Linked DNA regions of Homo sapiens: region 2 is linked to region 1. A link means that fine-mapping ties the variant in region 1 to the expression of a gene that starts in the linked region. Tissue or cell type: putamen. Region 1 holds a variant in brackets; the other region holds the start of a gene. All regions are shown on one strand. Distances are between the middles of the regions.

Region 1 (8,103 bases):
CTGGGAGTGGAAGGATGAAGAGGTCAAAAATAATACATAAAATAAAAAGATGGGCACTAGGAATGCACTGGTGATGGTAAGGTGCTATGTACTGACAGGTCTGATCAAGTCAATTCTGCATCTGGACTCTAAAAAGGAAGAAAAGATGCAGTTTAGAGAAGATCCAGCTCAGGGCCAGCCCTCAGTGATTTTTAAGTGATTCTGATGTGCGTCTAGGGCTGAGAGCTGGTGGCCCATGCCTAACACAGGCAGGTCTGCAAATAACCCTCTAGAAAAAAAGGGGTTCTGGAAAGAGCAGGAAGTGAGAGGGGATGGACATGAATGCGCCCCCGAAATGGCAGCTGTTGTGTTAGAACAATGGTATTATGGGAATTATCTTCCTGTATCTTCCAGATTCCTTTTAATGTCATTACATTGCTGATGTATTTTTTTTAATGCCACTGCTGTTTTGTTCCTAAGTAGTTCAGAGTTTCTAGGGAGAATTAAGAGCCATAACGGAACTCAACAGCCACTTGAGAGTTTAAAAGCTCAGCCTGAATGGTAGCAGGTGCCAGATTCAGGGGAAAAAAAAGTTACACTGCAGTTAAAACAAGAGTTAACGCTTTCCGTTAGGGAGAAGTCTTAACAGTTATACTTAAAACATTTATCCTTATATGTTGCATTTCACAGCTTAAATACAGGAAGTGAGTTGAACTAATATTTGCTATCTAAATGACAAGCTATGAAAAATGAGCCCATTGAAAGGGCAGAGTTGGCCGGGTCTTCCCAGAAGCAGATGCAAGACAAGACGAAATAGGCAAGAAATTAGGAGAAACATCTGTGAGAGAAGCCTGGGAGGGAGCCAGAAGACACGCTGAGAGAGCGTGGCTCCAGGCCAGATCTGATGCCCAGTGAAGGACAGAGGGAGGAAAGGCAGGCCCCGCAGCCTAGGGCAGGGTTGGCGCGGCTGTCAGGGAGTTCTCCAGCCAGACACCTGTCAGAGGGGGCCACGCCCCCAACAATAGGCCCGCTCCCAAACCCCTGCCGAGCCCTGTCATTGGCCGGAAGTAGCCTATGGGAGGCATGGCGTCGGTGTGAACAGGCGAGGGATTTCGGCAGGGCAGCTGGGGTAGTGGGTCAATGCCGCTCCCTGCAGTTGGAGGAGAGGGATGCTTCCTTACGGCCGCCACAGTTTTGCCAAGTGTTTATAAACTAAGCCTAATGTCTGCTCCTGGATGACATCTCTCATGGAGTGGTGGTGGCGCTGGGTTTTTTTTTAGGGGGGTGAGGAGTGCGGGGGTTGGGGTTTTTTGTTTGTTTGTTTGTTTGTTTTGAGACAAGGTCTCGTTCTGTCGTCCACACCTGGATTGCAGTGGCGTGATCACAGCTCTCTGCAGCCCCGACCTCCTGGCCTCAAGAGGTCCTCTCTTCTCAGCCTCTCAAAGTGCTGGGATTACAGGCATAAGACACCATGCCCTAAGTGGCACTTCTTCATTGGGTGAGGACAGTAACTAACTGGAAGGAATTTTAAATTTTTCTAGGACTTGCCTGAAACTTTCCCGAAACTTCTTTCTTGTGATGGAAGAAACATGGAAGGACAAAGGTCATCCACTTGAAAAGGTTTTCCACGGGTAACCATGACCAAGAACTAGCTCTATGCCAGGCCGAAACTGTCAGTGTGGCATGCTTTCTCTTTTCTCATCCTTACAGTAGCCCTCAGAGGTTGATGCTATTATTATCCCTGGAACAGGATCAGTGAGATAGTCATTTGTGTTTGGCTCTCCCTGAATTTCACAACCCTCACCCTCTGCCTCCGGGGAGGTTTGTGTTGCTGAAGTAGAAAGCAGAAGCCGTCCTCATATACCTGCCCTTCTGGCTTTTTCAGAAGTATGAATTGCTCAAGGGGAAAAGGGTGGTGATTGAGAGGGACAAAGAGGATCCTGGGCCATAGAAAGGGGTAGAGGGAGATTCCTGAGGCTGGTGGCTTCCTCAAGTAGGTAGAGGACCTGACCCTGTTCTTAACATGGTCCAGAGTATATAGCAGGACTGCAGAGGACCCTGATTGCTCCTCCTGAATTGAAGATTATAGGCCTTTCCTCATTTGGGGCACTGTGTTGGCCTCCTGGGTACCATGCAACATTGAGGAGGCAGAGGGAGCACCAATAATGCTTGGAACTGACCTCCCACCAACTTGGAAGGGTGGAGGCTTGGAGACTAAATTTGATTGGCATTTATGGAGTACAAGCCACAGCCATTTCAAACTTGTTCTGTGTGTGTGCGGTGGGAAGTCCAATTTCAGGCATTTGTCAAGGCATGCTCCTCTTAGGGTCGTTTAAGGGTCTTGGGGTAAGAAGTCTTTTGGCCTGCACCCATTGTGTGCAGCTCTGCCCTCATCTACCCATCTCTGGCTATGGAGCTACATGCAGTGGGTCGCCCTTGTCTGGTGTCCTGTCCAGGCCAGTGAGGCTCTTCAGAGGGTGGGCTGTTCCATGATTGGCATGTGCTCCCTCTATGCCTACTCATCAGGCATTTCACATGGCTTCTCAAGCCTCAAACCTACAATCCTGGATTTATTAGGAAAATACTATCTGTTGCACCAATCAAATCCCAAATTTCCCGTGGCTTGAAAAATAAATGTTTGATTCTTGCTCACATAAAAAGTCCAGCACAGGTATTCTTGGTTGGCAGGTGGCTTTCAGGGGCCCAGGGGCCTTTTATTTTGTGGCCCTTCCCTCCAAGATCCTTGAATTCTCTGTACCCAGGAGTTTGGTATAATAAAGAGAAGACAGAAAAAGACATACCTGCTTCTTAGTTCCCTAGCCAGGAAATGCCACAAATTGCTCTACTCCCAGTCTGTGGGCAAGAACTAGTCACATGGTCCCACCTCAACACTGGGGAGTGTGGGAAACATAGTTCCCGGCTGGGCAACTCTGTAATGTACGAGGGGAATGTGAGGGAACAGGAGTCTTTGCTGTCCCACCGGCCATCTTTGTCAGTCCCTCCATGATCCCCAGTTCTAGCCAAAGACCACACTTCACACTTTACTAGAAGGTAGAACCACTCAGACATTTTCTTATCCTCCTGCCACCAAATCCACCAGGATATGTACCCACACTCTCTGTCTTCTCTCCTGTCACAAAAAAATGCCATAGGTGCTAAGTACCCCTGAAGTGGAGTGCGGGGCCACCGCAGTAGGCAGCCCCTGAGACAGCTCCCAGTGCTCCTCCCCTCCTGGTATTCATGCATTTGTGTGATTTCCCGCCCTTGAGTATGGGCTGGGTTCATGACTCACTTCTTTTTTTTTTTTTTTTTTTTGAGATGGAGTCTCACTCTGTTATCCAGGCTGGAGTGCAGTGGTACTATCTTGACTCACTGCAACCTCCACCTCCTGGGTTCAAGCAATTCTCTTGCCTTAGCCTCCCAAGTAGCTGGGACTACAGGCACCCACCACCACCACACCTGGCTAATTTTTGTGTTTTTTGTAGAGATGGGGTTTCACCATATTCGCCAGGCTGGTCTCGAACTCCTGACCTTGAGATCCACCTACCTAG[G/A]CCTCCCAAAGTGCTGGGATTACAGGCGTGAGCCACCTCGCCGGCCTGATTCACTTCTAATAAACAGCATATTGCAAAAGTGATGGATGCCACTATGAGATTAGGTTATAAAAAGACTGTGCTTCTGTTAGGACCCCCCTCACCCCACTCCTCACTCTCCCCAAGAGCAGCTGGCTGCCATGCTGTGAACTGCCCTATGGAGATGCCCACATGGCAAAGGGCTGATGTCTCCAGCCAACAGTCAGTGAGGACCTGAGGCCTGCCCACAGCCACGAGAGAGAGCTTGGAAGAAGATCCTTTCCCCATGGAGCCTTGAGATGATTGCAGCCCAGGAGACATTGCGATTGCAGCTTTGGGAGAGCCTGAGCCTAAGGTGCCCAGATCAGCTGTGCCTGGATTGCTTTGCTGCCCCACAGTGTATTCCTTTGCTAGGGCTGCCATAACAAAATACCACAGACTTGGTGGCTTAAACAAAAGACATTTCTTTTCTTTTCTTTTCTTTTTGAGACAGTCTGGCTCTGTCACCCAGGCTAGAGTGAAGTGGTGTGATCTTGGCTCACTGCAACCTCTGCCTCCTGGGTTAAAGCAATTCTCCTGCCTCAACCTCCCAGGTAGCTGGGACTACAGGTGCACGCCACCATGCCCAGCTAATTTTTTGTATTTTTAGTAGAGATGGGGTTTCACCATGTTGGTCAGGCTGATCTCAAACTCTTATTCTGAAGCAATCCACCTGCCTTGGCCTCCCAAAGTGCCAGACCTTTATTTTCTCACAGTACATTTTTTTTTTTTTTTGAGACGGAGTCTTGCTCTGTTGCCCTGGCTGGAGTGCAGTGGCGTGATCTCGGCTCACTGCAACCTCTGCCTCCCGGGTTCAAGCAATTCTCTGCCTAAGCCTCCAGTGTAGCTGGGATTACAAGCACCCACCACCACGCCTGGCTAATTTTTGTATTTTTAGTAGAGACGGGGTTTCACCATCTTGGCCAGGCCGGTCTTGAACTCCTGACCTCATGATCCACCCAGCTTGGCCTCCCAAAGTGCTGGGATTACAGGCATGAGCCACCGTGCCTGGCTGTTTTCTCACAGTTCTGTAGGCTGGGTTCCAAGATGAAGGTGTCAGGGAGTTTGGTGTCTCCTGGGGCCTCTCTGCTTGGCTGGCGGGTGGCTGTCTTCTTGCTGTGTCCTCATGTGGGCTTTTCTCCATGCGCATTCCTGATGTCTCCTTATCTTCTTATAAGGACACCAGTCCTATTGGATTAGAGGCCTACCCTTATGACCTGATTTAACCTTAATCACCTCTTTCAAGGCAGAATCCCCAAATACAATCACTTTCTAAGGTTCTGGAGGGTTAGGGCTTTAGTATAGGAATCTGGGAGGGGGCACAATTCAGTTCATAGCACACAGGAACTGAGAGATAATACAAGTTTGCCATTTTTATGTTAATTTTTTTTTTTTTTAAGAGACAGGGTCTGGCTATGTTGCCCAGGCTAGCCTCGAAACCCTGGGCTCAAGTGATCCTCCCACCTCAGCTTCCCAAATAGCTGGCACTTCAGGCAGGCGCCACCATACCCAGCTGTAAATGTTTGTTGTTTTAAGCACTGAGACTGGGGTAGTTTGGTACACAGCAATCAATAACCAAAACAAGCACCTAGGCAAGACTCTGAGAGGCTGTGAAATCGTCTCATCCTCTATGGCTGAGGCATGAGAAGGCTATGGCTTCCCTGGGCCATAGAAGCAGCCAGTAGTAAGGATTTCTTTGAAAAGAGATGTGGGTCTGCTGAGCCAGGCTACTCCTGCCCCATCTCACCCATCCCACACCCCACTGGGCTGGAAGGAGTGCTTCCACATCACCTCAACTAGTGCGGGAAGTGTTGAGAGAACACATAGAGTATCTGAAGTGTGTTCCCTGAGGTTTGGAGGAACAGGGCTGGTACCTGTCTCCCTGGGAAACTCTAAAAGGGAGAGGTTCTGCCTCGGGGTGACTCCGTCAGGCAGCAGAGCCTGATGAGAGTGAGAGGGCAAGGGGCAAGCCTGTTTCCCAGGATCCAGGTGGACACTGGCAGGAGGAGGCTGGATTTGGGGGCCCTTGAAAGGGACATGGGTGAAAGAGCTTTCTGGAGCTGTTTGACCCAGTGAAGAGGGACACTCAAGTGTTTCTCCCACCTCGACCTCCCAAGTAGCTGGGACTACAGGCACGTGCCACCACGCCCACTAACTGTTGTATTTTTTTTGTAGAGAAGAGGTCTCGCTATGCTGCCCAGGTTGGTCTTGAACTTCTCGATTCAAACGATCCTCCAACCTCACCTCCCAAAGTGTTGGGATTACAGGCATGAGCCACCAGCCCCCAGTCAATATCACTATCTTTTTTATATTTATGTATTTTTTACAACTTTTTAAATAAAATATTATATAATATGTAAAAATATTTTTCTATCTTACCCCTTCAAGATGCAGGCGGGCTGCTGGCTGGCCTGGGCTTCCAGATGTCAGCCTTACTTGCCCTTTGCCTTTTGGTGACTCTGTCTTCTTAGGGAGCTGCACGGCCTGGATGTTAACTATCACTGTCTTTCACAAGGTTCTATTTTATTCCATTGTATGCAGAGCTATGTAAGTTGAGTTGCCTGTGTGTGACTGTAAGGCTCTGGCTCTGGGAGTGTGAGGCAGAGCTTTAGACCTGACTGTGCGTCACACTCCTGGGGGGCTTGTGGAAATGCAGATCCTCACTCAACAGGGGTGGGTGAGCCTAAGAGTCTCCATTTCTTTGCTGTTTTTATTTTGAGATAGGGTCTTGCTATGTCATCCAGACTGGTCTTGAACTCTAGGCTCAAGCTATCCTTCTGCCTCAGCCTCCCCAGTAGCTGGGACTACAGGTACATGTCGCCGCACCTGGCATCTCTATTCCAACAAGTGATGCAATGCTGCTGGCCCATGGCTCACACTTGACTTGTATGATTGTGAGCAAGAAACTGGGGGCCAATGCCCAGCGATGGGAGGCTCTGAAGCACTCACCCAAATGGTTCTTGAAGAATCAGGGATGGTGCATCTGCCCCATGCCAAGTAAGGACTGTAGGGATTCAAGAAACGCCTTTCCTGCCCGTCAGCCACCTCCCTTCCACCCGCACAACCCCAAGCCAGCAGCTAGTGGATGGGAGAGGGGAGCGAAGGGAGAGAGAGAGGTAGCCACATTTCCTCTTTCACTGTGTACAAGGCCGTTCCAAGCTGAGGAGGGAAGAGCTTTCAAATTGAACCAGGATTCGGGATTTCCTTGTCAGTCTGGACTGGACTTTTTTGTTTGTTTGTTTGTTTGTTTGTTTTTACCCAAAATAAGCTGAAAAGCTGTAGAATCTGCCCTAGACCTCATACGGACAAGGCTCGGTGCGGTGGCTCACGCCTGTAATCCCAGCACTTTGGGAGGCCGAGGTGAGTGGATCACCTGAGGTCAGGAGTTCGAGACCAGTCTGGCCAACATGGTAAAACCCTGTCTCTACTAAAAATACAAAATTAGCCGGGCATGGTGCTGTCACTTAGAACCTGGGAGGCAGGGCCAGGCACAGTGGCTCACGCCTGTAATCCCAGCACTTTGGGAGGCCAAGGCGGGCAGATCACGAAGTCAGGAGATCAAGACCAACGTGGCTAACACGGTGAAACCCCGTCTCTACTAAAAATACAAAAAATTAGCCGGGCATGGTGGTGGGCGCCTGTAGTCCCAGCTACTCGGGAGGCTGAGGCAGGAGAATGGCGTGAACCCGGGAGGCGGAGCTTGCAGTAAGCTGAGATTGCACCACTGCACTCCAGCCTGGGTGACACGGCAAGACTCTGTCTCAAAAAAAAAAAAAAAAGACCTCACTCAGCCAGAGAGGAAGCAGCCCACACCATGGGTGAAAAGGCAGTGGGGAGGAAGAAAAAGCTGGCTTCCTGCAAGCCCCTGCATTCCACTGGCTTCACATGAAGGGGCCCCTGATGCCCTCAGCCTTGCCAAGGCCTCTGTTCTGTCTCCTCTGCTTCTCCCAGAGCTACAGGCCCTAAGACTGCCCTCCCTCTCCTGTCTCATCATTTTCGCTCTCTCTCTCTGTTAGATCATTCCCAGCAGCATGAAAACCTGATGCTTCCTTCCTTTACCAAGCAAAACCAAAACAAGACAAATCCTTCCTCAACCCCTTGCTGCATTCAGCCACAGTTCTCAGTAAAACTCCACAGGAAGTCCCCACATGCTCCAGTTCTTTGCTTCTCATTCACTTAAAAATACATATATATTTAAAATTGGGAAATATGTTTATAAAGGGGGCTAAAAAAAGATTTTCTTGCTCCTTGGATGAATAACAAACATCTCTGAGGCTTCCTTTTCTTAACTATAGCAAAGGATGTGGTCTTGCTGTGTTTTGAGAGCATGAAATAAAATAATTCTGTCAACCTCCACAGACAAAAGTAGGCATGTACTCAGTCATACCTACGATGATATATCATATCCTGGTAAGTCCCTGGATCACCTTCTCCTCCCTCCCTGCTCCCACCGTGTCTCAGCTCCTTGTAGGCTTCAATCTCTGGGACTGGGCCTGAGCTAAGAATTGCAAAGTAA
Region 2 (8,103 bases), 29 kb before region 1:
TGTAGTCTCCTAGGGTGCACTGTCAGAATGAATCAGCTCCAACTGTCTTCAGGCTTTATGTCTCTCTGCTAAAGATCAAATTCCCAGAAGACAGTCAGATCAGCCAGCTTTGGTTTCATGCCTGCCCTTTGGCTAGGCAACTTACTGGCAGCACTTAATGGTGGAGGGTGGGAGTGGGGAGCGGAGAAAGTTATTTTACCAAAAGAAGATGCCATGGATGATGGACAGACCAAATTCCAGATGTCCATTCCAGGGAGACTTCCCCAATGGCCTGCTTAGGGGGATGGCAGGGGCCAAAGGTGGGCTTAGCGATTCAGTACACAGCTGATTTCTTGAGAGTACAATATCAGAAAGTGTTTCATTATAAAACTGGTGATATCCTCATAGAAGAAATTTGGAAATCACAGAAAAGTCTAGAAAAAATAATTTTAAAAGCCATCTATGATTCTACTAGCCAGAGTTAACCACAGCTAATTTTTCAGGGTGTTTCTCTCCTTTTTTTTTTTTTTTTTTTTGTGACAGGGTCTCACCCTATTGCCCAGGCTGGAGTGCAGAGGTGCAATCATAACTCAATGTAGCCTAGAGCCTCTGGGCTCAAATGATCCTCCCTCCTCATTTTCCTGAGTAGCTGGGACCATAGGCATGTGCCACCATACCTGGCTAATTTTTAAATATTTTTGTAGAAGATGGGGTCTCACTATGTTGCCCAAGCTGGTCCCAAACTCCTGGCCTCAAGTGATTCTCCCCACCTCGGTCTCCCAAAGTGCTGGAATTACAGGTGTGAGCCACCACACCTAGCCTATGGATTCTTTTTTACAGAGTTCAGGTCACACTGTGTGTATACTTTCATATTTGATGTTTAAGCACTGTGTACTGACCTAACAACTGTTAGAAAAGTGTCTTTGTAACATTGGTCTGGTGACGAGACTTGAGCTGTAGCTGTGCTACCTGCTGGAAGAGGCAGAGGGGACCTTCTTTGGCTCATGATTTCACCAACATTGGGGACCAAGCAAGTGTTGCCCAACTTGGGAAAGTGTCAAGACCTGCCTTCCATCCAGAGGAGGTTCTATCCGGACACCAGCCAAGGTGAATGAGAGATTCCATGGACATAGTCCTGCATACGGAAGGTCCTAGTTCCATATTAGAATCCATATTAAAATCCTTCTGATATGAATAGATCACATTTCCATCTCATCATTAAAGAAGACACTACCTTTATTTAGTCACTTAAAATGATAAGAATATACTTCATGATGAAGAGTAAAATCACTAGGAAGGGACAGGAGTGGTGACTCATGCCTGTAATCCCAGCACTTTGGGAGGCCAAGGTGAGCAGATGGCTTGAGCCCAGGAGTTTGAGACCAGGCTGGGCAACATGGTGAGACCCCATTTCTACAAAAAATACAAAAGTTAGGCAGGCATGGTAGTGCATGGCTATAGCCCCAGCTACTGGGGAGGCTGAGGTGGGAGGCTCACCTGAGCTCAGGAGGTCAAGGCTGCAGAGAGCACATGCCACTGTGCTCCAGCCTGGGTGACAGAGTAAGACCCTGTCTCAAAATAAAAAAAGAAAAATCACTAGGAAGGTGGGATAATGGGAGAATCCTAGTTGAAATATAGCTATACCCATCTTAATAATGTACCATGTATACACAGATGTGTGTATTTAGGCACCTGAACTTGTGTATATAATAATATTAAACTGAGAGCTTGCCTGCTTCAATCTTTGCTGACATTTGCTAAGGGATAGAATTCAAGGTGATATAAGAATTCTCTGTCACCTGGAGCTAGAGAAATCTGTACAACTCCTGCAATTAACTCTCAGGAAAGAGTAGGCCATATTTCTATTAATAGGGTCCACCCCTCAGAATCAAATCACAGTGGAATCACTTTTAAAGAGGTCAGAATTTGTCCATAGAGGAGAATCATTCAGCTTTGCTTTTTGACTCATTCCACGTGACTCAAGGGGCCAGCCTCTCATTCTAATGCCTCTAGGGACACTTGTTTGCTAAGACACATTATCTGCACAGAAAAGGGCCTCCTAAGTCAAGGCTGGGGAACATCGAGCCATTGGGAATGCCATGCTTGGTCTAGTGACTCCCAAGGGACTCCAGCTGAGGGGGCTGTCGCCCTCTGTTACTCCTTCTATGAGCCTTTCATGGACTCCTTCACTCTCCTCATTTCTACTTATTTTTCCCTGGGAGTCGGCTTCAGCTCTCTTTTTAAATTCTGAATTATCTTGCCTGTTTCCAGGGTTCCAACTACCTATGGAATTGTGGCTTCCTAATTTATATCTCTAGCCCAGGCTTTCCTCAAATTCCAGACCCTCTTATCCACAGAATACTCCAGATTTCTACCTTAAAGTTGTCACCAGCACCACCTGTTCACCAAATCCCCAAACTTACTCTTCTCCCTGTGTTATTTTTATCTCAGTGGCACCAAGAGTCTGCCAAGCTTGAAAGCTGGAAGTCACCACTGATTCCTCCCTCACTCCATCCTCACTCTGTTCACTAAATCCTGTTGAATTCACCCAGATGGTCATTCAGTGAGTACATTTCAAGCACCTGCTATGTGCCAGGCATTGTGTTAGGTATCTACTGCGAAGCAAAAATAGACAAGGTCCTTGCCCTCGTGGCTTACAGTCCAGCTGGGGAAACAATATCATGAAGGAAATGTATCCTAAGTTAAGAGAGTGTTTAGTCTGGGAGACAGAGAAGGCTTCCCCAAGAAAGGGGGAGATCTAAAGGGTGCCTTAAGAATTAAATGGATGAAAGTCATAGGTGGGGAGTTCAATTTCTAAGCAGGCAGAACGTCCTGTGTATGAGCTCTGAATGAGGTGGAAGGAATGAGGAATGTCCTTCAAGGGACTAAGGAACGGCCTCTGGAAAGTGAGTGGTCTTCCAGGAAGGCCATCGTGGCTGAGGGGTAATGAATTGCAATAATACTAGGATGGGAGAGGAGAGTGGGGAAGTGGGAGAGGCCCCATTGCTCAGCACCTGGTAAAGATTTTGGTCCTTTTTTTGAGAGGACAGAGAAGACTTTTAAGGTGAGTGGGATGATGGGTGGGGAAGGTTGAGGAATGACAGATTTCTATATGAAAGTCGCTGTGGCTACAATGTGGAAAATGGATTAGATGGGGCCTGGGCAGAGGTGGGGGAAGGCTTTCCCATTGGCTTCCTCCTTGCCATCCCCATAGCCATGATCCCCAGTCCAGATTTTTGTTGTCTCTTCTTGTCTTGCAGCAGAAAACCCCACTACTATTGTCCCTAGCAACTTACCTTCAGTGTGGCTGTCTCACTTCTGACAAAAGAAAAGAAAATCAACAATCCTTCGTTGGGCTCAAAATAAAGTTCAGAGTCCTTAGTCTGGCTACAGGTCCCTTCAAACCTGGCCCTTGTCTCCCTCACCAGTGTCACATCCAACCACTTGTCATCAATACCTGAGCTCTAGTTCATACAAGGGAGACTCGAGAGCTGGACCGCAGTTTGAGGTGAAAGGACCAGAGGAGTAGAGGCACCGAGAGCCAAATCTGAGGCCGAATCAGAGGTCTAGGATGTTAACTGAACAGAAAGTAAAGGAAACTGGCCGAAGCGGGGGTTTCAGGCAGTTGGCTTCCAGCATCTTCAGGCGGTTGGCTACAAGAACATCAAAGACCAACATTTGGGAAGCACTCAGGGACAAGACATCCGGAGGCTTGGATGCAAGACCAAAGGTGTAGTTGATGGGAGGTAGTTCCCCAGGACAGGCCCCCGAGGACTGACAGATGGGAGCTTAAGGACAGGACCCCCAACCAGTAGAGAAATGAGGTTCCCGAACAGCCATGACCACAGCTGGCGCAGAATGGGCAGGACTCAGAGACTTGTAACTCAGAAGGTCAAGGACAATGGCTGACTTGAGGATGACTTGGTAGGAGGAGAATGATGAGAACATTCTTTATATTCTACCTGTCTGGAGACAGAATGAATTCTAGAACAAAAGGAGCAAGGCCAAGCTTCCAATCAAGGCTAGAGCTAGAAGGTCATGGAGAAAGGCGTGGGCAGCTCCTGCCTTCGCCTGCACCAAGTTCAACAAACACACAGTCATAGCCATGGCTGGTCCCCAGAGCACACACAAGGCAAGGATGTTAGTGGCCAGCCCCATGCACCCCGATGAGCTATGCTCGCTTGGGAGACCCATCCTCCTTGAAGGTGAGTGAAATCTCAACACGAGTATGGTTCTGAGAGTAGCTCTGTAACTCTGAGGATGGTCTCTGGAGACCATGACTGTGTACAGTTCACATGGTAACCAGAAGACTATGACATACTTCAGAAGGTGGTGAGGTCATAGAACACAAGCTTTAAAGTAAGTGAATCATGTGTGCCTCATTTATTTTTAAAAGCAACTTCTGAGAAGGGCTTAGAACAAATTTTTTCCCGGAGTGCCATTTCCCAAAGGTACTCACAGAACAATCAGGTGTGACCATAATGGCTGCACTGAGTTGTCTCTTGGACAGTGTCAGAAGGGACATAAAGAAGGTGGACAGAGAACTAAGGCAACTGAGATGCATCGACGAATTTAGCACACGGTGCCTGTGCGACTTGTATATGCACCCCTATTGCTGCTGTGACTTGCACCCATATCCGTACTGCTTGTGCTATTCCAAGCGATCACGCTCTTGCGGCCTGTGTGATCTCTACCCATGTTGCCTGTGTGATTATAAGCTTTACTGTCTGCGACCATCTCTCAGAAGTTTGGAGAGGAAAGCCATCAGAGCCATAGAAGATGAGAAGCGAGAGCTTGCCAAGTAAAATAACTTATTTTTAAATTTTTATAGTCGGTATATTAGCCTTATAAGTTGGAATAAGGAAAAATATGTGACAATCAATAGTTGAACAAAGATTAAAAGGGTTCAGGATAATGACCCTGGTGACTTAGGAAAGATTTAAGGAAAGAAGAGTAAATGAGTCCATGATGGGAATTGTAGGGTTCTCAAAAGACAATGTAATGATGTCGATTGGCAAGGTCGTCGGTGGTTTATAGCAAGAATGCCAGTATGATAAATAATGCGGCTTTAATGAAGGGAAGAAACAGGGGGTGTCATTAAAAAGCCATTGGAAGCAGCAAACTAAACATTTTTCCTGGTTATGAGTAAAGTGATTTGAGTATATTTGGACTTACAGAAATGACTACAGGAGAAGTAATAATAATAGATCAAATCCTTAATGTGTGCCAGAGGCTTTACAAGCAGGAGAGCAAATTGAACAGTAGAGGCATTGCCTTGGTTTTGTGGGAATATCATTCTCCTATCCCCCCACTCCAGGCAAAGACTTACCTTGTATCTGGAATTAGGTCTATCATGTTGGCCTCCCCTCTAACTCTAGCAAAGGTCTTGCAAATAAACTATGGCACTGAGTTGTAGCTTTCAGGATAGACTTGAAAGGCTTTTTAATTGAATTGGGTAATTAAAAAGAGTCAGTTTTTTAAAAAAATTTTTGTTTTAGATTATATTTTCTTTTTGCCTGGAGAAAACTTTCCTTTTCTAACTTTTTACATATGCCATTTAGTCTGTTACTGTTGATGAAAAAGATGGTTGAAAGTGCTGTCCCTGGTTAAATAAATAATACATTCATGCACTGGAATAATAAGTAAATATAGAAAGGATTGATGAAGCATCTTACATATTGATGTATTAAGTCAAACAAGCAAAGTGCAGAAAAACTGATAGACAGATGACAGATAGATAGATAGATAGATAGATAGATAGATAGATAGATGATAGATAGATAGAGTCTCTTGACAACAGTGACAGTGATGTTTCTTTGGAAAAAGCAATAGGAGGCCGGGTGCATTGGCTCATGCCAGTAATCCCAGCACTTTGGGAGGCGGAGGCGGGCAGATCACCTGAGCTCAAGAGTTCGAGACCAGCCTGGCTAACATGGTGAAACCCCATCTCTACTAAATACAAAAAAAAAAAAAAAAAAAAATTAGCCAAGCGTAGTGGCACGTGCCTGTAATCCCAGCTACTCGTGAGACTGAGGCAGGAGAATCACTTGAACCCAGGAGGCAGAGGTTGCAGTGAGCCAAGATTGCACCACTACACTCCAGACCGGGTGACAAAGTGAGACTGTCTCAAAAAAAAAAAAAAAAAAAGGATAATTATTGTCTAGGTCACCAGCCACCAATGGTCAGGAATGAACCTCCCTCATAGCCTGGGAGCTTTCACCTGTAAATTCATCTATACTCTTTGAACCAATGTTTGTTTTTATTTCTTAGGGCATCAAGTCACATAAATTGCTCACACTGTGAGGCAGGGACTCTTTTTAAAATATTTGGTCCAAGTTAAGGTTTCCTTGTGAGCAGATCAGTATCCACTCTCCTCCTACTTTTGGATACTTGAATACCCTTGTCCAGGTCTTTCCAGCCTCTGTCTTCCTGGCTTCTCTCCTATCCCCAGACTCTACCAATTAAAATCCCTCTCTGTCCTGTGCTGTCTACTCTCTTGATGCCTCTTTCAGAAGCCTTGTTTCTTGGCATGCAGTAGAAACAGCTTCAAGCTTAATTCTCGGCAGTGTAGTTTAGGCAAGAGGTAATGTTTTCTCTGGTTTGTGATGCTCTTCCTGACAGCGTCTGGGTCTTTGCCTATTTTTTCTCTGCCTGCAGGCAATATGTGAAGCTGGTGATGTCTTTACATTAATTTCTGGATCTCGGAAATGATAACTCCAAGTCCATTGTAGAAATGACCTCAGGCTTGTCCGCTTTATCTCTTCCAATTCACACCACCTTGTGAAATTTCTATGCTCTATTTCTGACAACTTGACATTTCACTCTCCAGAAGGGCTTAGTGTCACTTGCAAACCTAAATATTCAATTTTCCTGAATATGGGTGAAAATGTTAAACCCTGATTCTAGCCTCAGTCCCAGAAGGCCCCCAGTGTAGTATTTTTTCTTCTAGTGCAGTGCCTTTTATTCTTATCTCTAAGCTAGCGCCTGATCCATAACTAAATAGATGCAGAAATATCATGTTGATTCAATTTTTTAAAACAATCTTTGGTGTGAAAGCTTGCCCAAGGCTTTTTGAGTTTAGAATTCATATTCACATGACCTTCCTCCCCTTTAAAGAATGCAAGGGGGTTGGTTAGTTATGACATATCCTTTCAGATGGCAGGCTGTGTTGTCCAGAAGGTTCTTTGCCCAATATGAAGTAAAGACTCTATAGTCTATAGTTGCCTTGGCCCCCTTGAAACTGTTTTTCTGTGTCACAGTCAATCTGCTGTGTCTCTGGGTCCTCCTTTAATAACTGGTAAAAAGCCTCAACCAACAATTTCTTAATTGATCCCACAGGTTTCTTGAGCACTCCTGACTATATGTTATTTGATTGATGCATGTGTGTGGTGTTTTCTTAGACTGGGCATAGAAAATCCAATCCAAGCTGGGTGCAGTGGTTCACACCTGTAATCTCAGCACTTTGGGAGGCTGTAATAGGAGAATTGCTCAAGTCCGGGAGTTTGGGACCAGCCTGAGCAACACAGGGAGTCCCCATCTCTATAAAAATTAAAATAAAAAAATTAACCAAGTGTGGTGGCACATGCTTGTGGTCCCAGGTACTCAGGAGGCTGAGGTGGGAGGACTGCTTGAGCCTGGGAGGTCAGGACTGCGGTAAGCCATGATTATGCCACTACACTCCAGCCTGGACAATAGAAAGAGACCCTGTTTCAAAAAATAAATAAATAAATAAAAGAAAATCCAATCCATTTCCATTCTTTATTGGGCAGCTGCTTCAGAAGACACCATGTTGGCAGTGTCTTCCTTAGTAGAGACCCAAGTAAGCACCTTTGTTTCTGTAGCTTCTTTGATATCCTCTTTTCCTCCCCAAGAGGCAGGCAGTGTCCCTGTCTCTTCCTCCCTCTTCTGGATTTAGAGGGGCTGAGGGGACTGCATTGGTTTCCTTTGTCGGAAGCCATGCCACCAGCCTGATTTAAGTTGTAACTGATTCACCACCACATTTCATGGGCTTCCCTGCCCTCTGTCTTAGAGCCGGAGAAACAAAACCCAGGCCCTCCTCAATCTTGCCCTAGGAGTTTATGATCTAATTCATGGGTGCCCCATGTGGCCAGGACACCAAGCAGT

What was found. PIP is the estimated chance that this variant, and not a neighbour inherited with it, causes the effect.
Region 2: it holds the start of ODF1, and the variant in region 1 is fine-mapped to the expression of ODF1 in putamen (GTEx, PIP above 0.99).

What each region holds. Positions count from the first base shown.
Region 1 is chr8:102,576,089-102,584,191 of GRCh38, forward strand. No RefSeq gene overlaps it. Among named protein-coding and RNA genes, the nearest start is that of ODF1, 29 kb to the left of the region's middle. RefSeq lists an enhancer at 7,537-8,036. The variant G/A (reference allele first, on the strand shown) is at 3,531.
Region 2 is chr8:102,547,268-102,555,370 of GRCh38, forward strand. It overlaps ODF1 (outer dense fiber of sperm tails 1), which reads left to right and starts at 4,322. Exons shown (of 2, transcript NM_024410.4): 1 at 4,322-4,780. The coding sequence starts at 4,461. It overlaps LOC124901998 (a long non-coding RNA gene), which reads left to right. Exons shown (of 3, transcript XR_007061039.1): 2 at 2,431-2,542; 3 at 3,240-3,329. LOC105375684 (a long non-coding RNA gene) reads right to left here and starts at 3,361. Exons shown (of 2, transcript XR_928478.3): 1 at 3,276-3,361. RefSeq lists an enhancer at 8,054-8,103.